Homo sapiens: one gene and its partner. The protein of the gene in region 2 purifies or fractionates together with the protein of the main gene of each other region. This does not show direct contact. Each region holds a gene or a part of one and is shown on either strand. Other genes may lie near its edges.

Region 1 (2,537 bases), on a different chromosome or scaffold from region 2:
ATTGTCGTGTATTGGAAGTGGTGATCTGTTCCCTTTTTTATATATCCATTCAGCATATCAGTTTCTACCTCCCTTCCCACTCTCTATGCTGCTATAGTAATTCAGAGCCCAAACTCCAGGGTTTTCTGCTTGACCTCCCCCAACCCTGAATGTTGAGGTTATAAGAAATTGCCCCCACTCTAGACCCTGAGGACATGGGCTTCTGTCTTGTTTCTAGTACTGCTGCACACACTGTGGTTTGAGTGATTATATGAAGCACTGCTAGTTTGTCCAGAATAGCCAACTCTTACTGTAAAGAGAAGTAATTTAATTTACCGTAATTTACTAAATGTAAATTACCTATAAAGAGCATTCACTTGACCTTTAACAATCCTCAAAAATATAAATGTGTTCTCACAAATGGAAACTTCTAGCTACTTATGTAAGTCACTAATATTACACATTGGTATTTCTACCATATTTCGATAAGTATAGACTCAGAATGCAAAAATGTATCAAACTTTTCAAGGTTACCAAGAAAAAAGCAGAAGAAGAAATTTATTTTTAATTTCAAAATGTTTTGGGATTTCATCATTTTGATTTTTAAAAGTTAACATAGAAAATAATAAAAAATGAAACAGCTTATCTGAATATAAGCTGACCCACAGTAGTCACACTGATTACAGCAGGCCTTCTGGTCACATAGGGTTGTCTCCTTAAATAGCAGAGGTTGTCTACAGCTTCTGAATTAGCATGGCAGAAGCACCTCCTCCTCCATTGCAAATACTGGCAAGACCGTATTCTCCTTGCTTCAAGGCATGAGTCAAATGACCAACAATCCTGGCTCCAGACATCCTAAAATTAAGAAAGCATTTACTTCTTTAATGAAGTACAGAATTTATGACTAACCAAAATGTTTCTATTCCAATTTAACTTCTTGAAAACCTTACTAGCCACTACTACTTGCTGAATTAACTACTACTATTCTAAAACTAAAACTTGGAGGACTTGTTTCAGGAAGGGTCACAGATCTTAGATCATTTTTTGAGATGGAGTCTCGCTCTGTCGCCAGGCTGGAGTGCAATGGCAGAATCTCAGCTCACTGCAACATCCACCTCCTGGGTTCAAGCGATTCTCCTGCCTCAGCCTCCCAAGTAGCTGGGACTACAGGCGTGCACCACCACACCCAGCTAATTTTCGTATTTTTAGTAGAGACAGGGTTTCGCCATGTTGGCCAGGATGGCCTCTATCTCTTGACCTCGTGATCTGTTCACCTCAGCCTCCCAAAGTGCTAGGATTACAGGCGTGAGCCACCGTGCCTGGCCAGGTCACAGATCTTTTAAAAGTACAGAACAGTATAATGGATAGAAGAGTAGAGTATAATGGAAGAGGGATGTGGGATAAACTACATATTGGGTGACTGACAGGTGCACTGAAATCAGCCCCCACCACTATAAATTCATCCATGTAACCAAAACCCACGGTACCCTAAAGCTAATGAAATAAATAGGAAGGAGAAAAAGGGGGTAAAAAGTCTAAATGTACACTTTTTCTTCTTCAGCATAAAACATTATTAGGTTTCAAATAACAGATGTGACAGGTCTCTGTTCAGTATTGGATACCATCTATCAGAAATGGTTTTTGCCTTATGAAAGATGGGTAGGAAGGAAAACTTAAGAGCAATGGGAATTATGAAGCAGTTTTAAGTTTAGCTAGAAACACAAAGGCAGCTCTTAACCTAGATATAGTTATTATTTTTACCTACCCAATTGGATGTCCCAGAGAAACAGCTCCTCCATTGATATTCACTTTTTGGGGATCAATCTCCAACATTTTAATGTTTGCTAGTACAACCAGACTAAAGGCTTCATTTACTTCCCACATTGCAATATCTTCTTTTTTCAATCCCACATCTTTAAGAACCTTAAATTTTTTAAAAGACAGATGATGTTCAAATAATTAGCAATCACAACTTACTGTCATCATTTCCTTGAAATACTACAGTTTGACATAAGTTATTTAAATATGGAAGTTCTTGGTTTCAGATGGAAGGATCTCTATTTTCAGATTTTTTTTTTTTCCAACAGTCTTGCTCTGTCTCCCAGGCTGGAGTGCAATGGCGCCATCTTGGCTCACTATAACCTCTGCCTCCCAGGTTCAAGCAGTTCTCCTGTCTCAGCCTCCTGAGTAGCTGGGATTACAGATGCCCACCACCATGCCCAGCTAATTTTTTGTATTTTTAGTAGAGACAGGGTTTCACCATGTTTGGCCAGGCTGGTCTCAAACTCCTGACCTCAGGTGATCTGCTCACTTCAGCCTCCCAAAGTGCTGGGATTACAGGCGTGAGCCACCGCACCCGGCCCATTTTCAGATTTTTAGTTGCTCATCTTATTCCATTATATCAAAGAATTTTGTTTGCATTATGTCTGTTTTGACATAGGGGACAGAAAATTTGATTTTCTTTCCACAGATATTTGAAAAGGTACATTTTCTATTTAGGGGCACATAATGCTTTATATATTCTTAAGCTCTGCTTTACTGATTGTGTGTTGCTTGGT
Region 2 (5,454 bases):
TTGCCTGCTTGGCCCCTTCTTCATTATCCATGTGTAATAAGAAGTCTGACTCCATTTTCACTCTTTGCCTCTTGACAAATGTCAAGCCCCATTTCCCCTTCCCAACCCCATGCTTCATCTGAGTAAATTGGTAAGAAAACTCACACACACCTTCTCTCTTATCCCTGGTAGGAGTTTCAATCCATGCAAGTCAGGACAATGAAAGGAAATCCTCAGCCCATCCTACCCCTCCTCACAGTAAAAACTCAAGCCAGTCATCCCTCCCTGCTCTCTAAAGCCATTTTTCAGATTTGCCTGGGAGCCTGTCCTGCTATTCTGAAAAAAAGAAAAAAAAATACCTCACCCTATGAGTCATAAACCTCTCATATCTTCTTAATGCATGTGTGCCTTCATCACATCCAAATCAAATTTTGTGTAAGGATTGGGGGTATGTTAACAGATAGCCCCACATATTAAGGCCCTCATACTCAAGCTAATTGAAATGAAAGACTCTATCCAAGTATCTACTGGCAAATACTTTGCAGTCATAGAGTTGGCTAGAATGTTTTTTTCCATGCTGATTTTAACAGGCTCTCAGCCACAGTGTGTCTTTACCTTGGAAGAAACACAATGCATGGCTACTCATAGTATACTTCAACAGCCCTACTATTGCCCACAATCTTTGCCAGCAAGAGCCACTGCTTCCAGCTTTCTCCAGGAGTACAGATATAACATTACATTGAGGGTGTCCTCCTCTGAGGAGATTCATTTGCCACACTCATTTAAGACATAGAAACATTCAAAAAGGAGCTCACAAAGGGGATAAGCCATTGTCCCATGCAAAGTATCAGACCCAGTCCCTCACTTAAATTCCAAAGGATCATTTGGTTAGTTGAAGACCTCTCCATCCCCAATACTATTAAGAAACAATTATTGAGCATCTCTGTGCCCATAATGTTACAAGCCCAACATCTTTTAGGCCTTTTTTACACTTTAAAGACAACATATTCCTTATTTATAAATTTTACTTAGGTCCACTCATGTTTATTACTTGAAAATCAGCCCACATTGCATAGGAACCCCTGTAACAGAAGGCTCTAGAATCTGTCCAAGTTGCAATACAACAGGCTCTCTCATTAGTGCCCGCCAGGGACACCTGCACTGTAAAGGCTTTAGCATCCTCCTTTCATGCCTCCTGGAGTTCTTCTGAGCACCTATCATGGCTGTTTCAGTTTCCTATTGCTGCTTTAACAAATTACAACAAACTTAGTTGCTTAACACAACACAAGGTATTGTCTTATAGTTCTGGAGATCAGAAGTCCAAAATGGGTCTCATTAGAATAAAATCAAGGTGTGGGTAGAGCTGCATTTCTTCTGGAGGCTCTGGGGAACGATCCATTTTCTTGCCTTTTCCAGCTTCTCAAGGCTACCTGCATCCCTGGCTCATGGCCCCCTTCCAACAGGCAATCACATCACTCTGATTTCTTCTTCCATCATCACTTCTTTAACTCTCCTACCATCTTCTTTCCTTTATAACAGGGGTGTCCAATCTATTGGCTTCCCTGGGCCACATTGGAAGAAGAAGAATTGTCTTGGGCCACACATAAAATACAGTAACACTAATGATAGCTAATGAGCTAAAAAGAAATTGCAAAAACAATCTCATAATGTTTTAAGAAAGTTTATGAATTTGTGTTGGGCCACATTCAAAGCTGTCCTGGGCCACATGCAGCTGGTGGGCCACGAGTTAGACAAGCTTGCCTTATAAGAACTCTTGCATTTAAACTGGATTCACCTGGGTAATCCATGATAGTCTCCCTGTCTCAAAATCCTTATATTAATCACATCTGCAAAGATCCTTTTGCCTTTCGAACATGTAAAATAGCACATTCATAATTATAGGAATTCAGACATGTATATCTTTGGGAGGGAGCATTATTTGCCTACCACAGAGTGTTCTCTAGATCCCAGACATTCATATACACCCCTCTTGGAATGAAAATGTATTCATCTTGTCCCAACATCCCCCAAAGTCCCAAACAATTATATTATCAATTCAAAGTGAAAAATCTCATCTAAAGCTCATCAGCTCGGAATTCCCAAATCACATCATCCAAATAATCTACATCAAGTGTGGGTGAGAGTCTGGGTGTAATCCATTCAGTGGCAAAATTGCTCTCCTTCTGTGGATCTATGAAACTAGGAAAAAATGACCTGCTCCCCAAAACCAATAGTGGGACAGGCATAGGATACCAATTATAGACATTATTCTAATGGGGGCAAAAAGAAAGTAAAAAAAAAAATGAGGTGCCAGTCCCAAGACATTTTGACTCCAACTGGGCAAACAAAATTAGGTTTTAAGGACTGGAAATAATCCTGTGGTTTGGCTCAGCCTTCTGGGCTAGAAGCTCTGCCATCTGGGCTCATTGCTTCACCTTCAGAGTTTTCCTTCGTTTTTCATGAATCGTTGCATGTGGTTACAGCTGAGTGGTTTGTCAGTTTATTTCCTACTTGCAGAATCTGGGGAGTTCAACAGCCCTCCTTCCTGTCATATTCTCCTCCCTGTCATATTCTCCTCATACCTTTTAGTCCAAATTGGCAGTACTTCTGAAGGTATAAAATTCTTGGGTACCGGGAGGCTGAGGCAGGAGAATCGCTTAAACCTGGGAGGAGGAGGTTGCAGTGAGCTGAGATCACACCATGGCACTCCAGCCTGCATGACAAGAGCAAGACTTCATCTCAAAAAAAAAAATTTGGGGGGGTACCTTGTGACCCTCGTGGGTATGTCATAGTAATTCATTCCACTAAACAAGAGGCTGCTCTGCAGTTTGTTTTTTTTTTTCTTTTTTTAGACAGAGTCTCGTTCTGTCACCCACCCAGGCTGGAGTGCATGGCACAATCTTGGCTCACTGCAACCTCTGCCTCCCAGGTTCAAACGATTCATGTGCCTCGGTCCTCTGAGTAGCTGGGATTACAGGCACGAGCCACCATGCCTGGCTAATTTTTGTATTTTAGTAGAGACAGGGTTGCACCATGTTGGCCAGGCTGGTCTGAAACACCTGACCTCAGGTGATCCGCCTGCATCAGCCTCCCAAAGTGCTGGGATTACAGGTGTGAGCCACTGTGCCCGGCCTAGGATCCACTGACTTTTAGAAGAGCAAGACCACCAGCTAGTGTCTAGATGTTCACCTCATCATCCTTTTAATATGTTGCCTCTGTAATGTGGACCATTAAAATCTTTTATCTGGCTGGCTGCCTTATAGTAATATCCCCTCAATTATTTTACTCATTTACTTCTTTTCTTTTATCCCCAACTCCATGTGCCTCCTCTCTACCTTGCTGATCTAAGTAGCAATAATATTTTACTTCTATTCCTTTTCCTTTTCATTTCAACCTGTTTATTTTGAACAAGAATAAATATCCTTTCAGGGACATGTTCTCATTCCTTTTCACCAGGTCTGTGAGATAGTGATGATCCTCTGTTTATGTTTATTTGCGGAAATAGATATTTTATTTTATGTGTAGACTAGTCATTATCTTGTCCTATCCATCTTTTCCATGTTTTCCTTTGTTTGTTTCATTTCCTTTTCCTTTGTTTCATTTCCTAGGATTACAGGCATGAGCCACCGCGCCCAGCCTCCACACATCTTTACGAGATAGTTTCATCTTGATTGGTGGCTTCTGCCATTATGGTTGAAGGAATCCATGAGACATACATCTAATTGCAGGACAGTTCTCAGGGTGGCCTTGGGCTGACCCTGTTTTCCTCTCTGCTTGTCACTTGTAGTTATCAAGAATAACTGCAGAAAGTGCTGGAAATGTAACACTCTGAGATAGAGAGGTACTGGGTGGAATAGCCCAGGCTTTGTTACAGTCTCCACTAGAAACAGGATGTCCTTCAACACTTAGCTTAGTACGTCATGTTTCTCCAGGGTATAAAACCCAAGGTGGTCTGCACTTCGTGGTCCTTTATCTGCAGGGCAAGTGGGGCATGTACAGTTGAGACTCCATTCATCCCGGGCAGCTTTCTGAACCTTGGAGGACCAGCTCACAATGAATTTTAGGTTTTGGTTGCTGCGCACGTGCAAGTAATAAATCCACTTCATGGAATTTGTTGCGTTATGTGGGTGTTCTTTCTTAGCAGACTCAGGCAAGTTGGTAACCAGTGCACACCAAACCTGCTTCATGCTAATCTCTTCAGTGAGCTTTCTGTGTGACTGAATACTCTGACCGTTTAATCCTGCAGAGGCAATAGCAAAAGGCTGTCCAGCCATACAATTGGCTTTCTCTACAAGACAACAGGATACACTGCTTTCCTGACATTGAATTCCCCAATTTTAAAATATTTTATCATCCTAATAGGCTGAGAATTTCCAAAACCATAAAGTCCTCGTTTTCTGCCTCATAGTTATTTTCTCAATTTATCTTTCCTCTCACATTTTACTATAGACAGTAAGAACACTTGAACATCTATATTTCTACAAAAAGCCTGTGTATGATGATTTATAGTCTCTAAGACAATACAGATTTTCTCTATCATGTTCTTTCCTTCCTTCTGAGTCATCACTAGCAGAGTTCTTAGAATCTCCAGTTCTACTCACAGTCTGTTCAAAGCAATTTAGGCTTTCTCTCTCATGCTCGTGAATATCTCTTGAATATTCTTCTAGCCAATATGTATAATCCAATTGTGATTCCAGATATTGATTGGTTGGAGCAGTAGTACATGTCAGTATTAGAAACCTTTGCTTCTTCAGTGCCTCTGATGTCATTTATTAAAGTTGCAAATAAATAAACAGTATGGGAAAGTGTTTCCAAATAAGGAGTTAATAATTGGCTCAAATGTTTCAATTCATTAAATTGGGCATCTGATCAGAAATAATAACCCAATCATGTGTTTCCTTGTTTGCAGACCTTCAGCCAAGCTCTACGGATGAAATGAAAAATGGGAATTCTATTTCAAAGTTTCAGAGACATCCATGATGAGGGAATTATTAAAAGAAACTCTAGACTCCTAATCCTATGAAAAAACAGAAAGGATCCACACATTCCTTGAATTGTTTATAGATTTTGCTCTGCTTGTATTTGTTAAAGAGTAAAAGGTCTGTAGCTTTCAGTAGTTTCTCTCTCTCTCTCTCTCTCTTTTTTTTTTTTTTCTCAGACTGGGTCTCACTTTATTGGCCAGGCTGGAACGCAGTGGTATGATAATGGCTCACTGCAGCTTCAGCCTCCAGGGCTCACACAATCCTCCTGCCTCAGCTTCCCACGTAGCTGGGACCACAGGAGCATGACACCATGCCCAGCTAATGTTTTATTTTTATTTTTAGTAGAGATGAAGTCTCACTATGTTGCCCAGGCTGGTTTTAACTCCTGGGCTCAAGTGATCCTCCTGCCTCAGCCTCCCAAAGTGCTGGGATTACAAATGTGAGCCACTATACCCAGCCAGTAGTTTCTCAAAGTTTATTGGAAATGTCATCA

The links. Proteins that work in one complex are often made in the same cells at the same time.
Region 1: the proteins of UGT3A2 (region 2) and ACAT1 fractionate together in Homo sapiens (co-fractionation; one large-scale study listed by BioGRID). This does not show direct contact.

What each region holds. Positions count from the first base shown.
Region 1 is NC_000011.10:108,145,567-108,148,103, reverse strand, and holds the end of ACAT1 (acetyl-CoA acetyltransferase, mitochondrial isoform b precursor), read right to left. Parts: intron 1,903-2,537; coding exon 1,745-1,902; intron 856-1,744; coding exon of another isoform or gene 835-855; coding exon 714-834; 3' UTR 501-713; downstream 1-500. UniProt on the Homo sapiens protein: This is one of the enzymes that catalyzes the last step of the mitochondrial beta-oxidation pathway, an aerobic process breaking down fatty acids into acetyl-CoA.
Region 2 is NC_000005.10:36,052,420-36,057,873, forward strand, and holds part of UGT3A2 (UDP-glucuronosyltransferase 3A2 isoform 1 precursor), read right to left. Parts: intron 2,643-5,454; coding exon of another isoform or gene 2,562-2,642; intron 1-2,561. UniProt on the Homo sapiens protein: UDP-glucuronosyltransferases catalyze phase II biotransformation reactions in which lipophilic substrates are conjugated with glucuronic acid to increase water solubility and enhance excretion.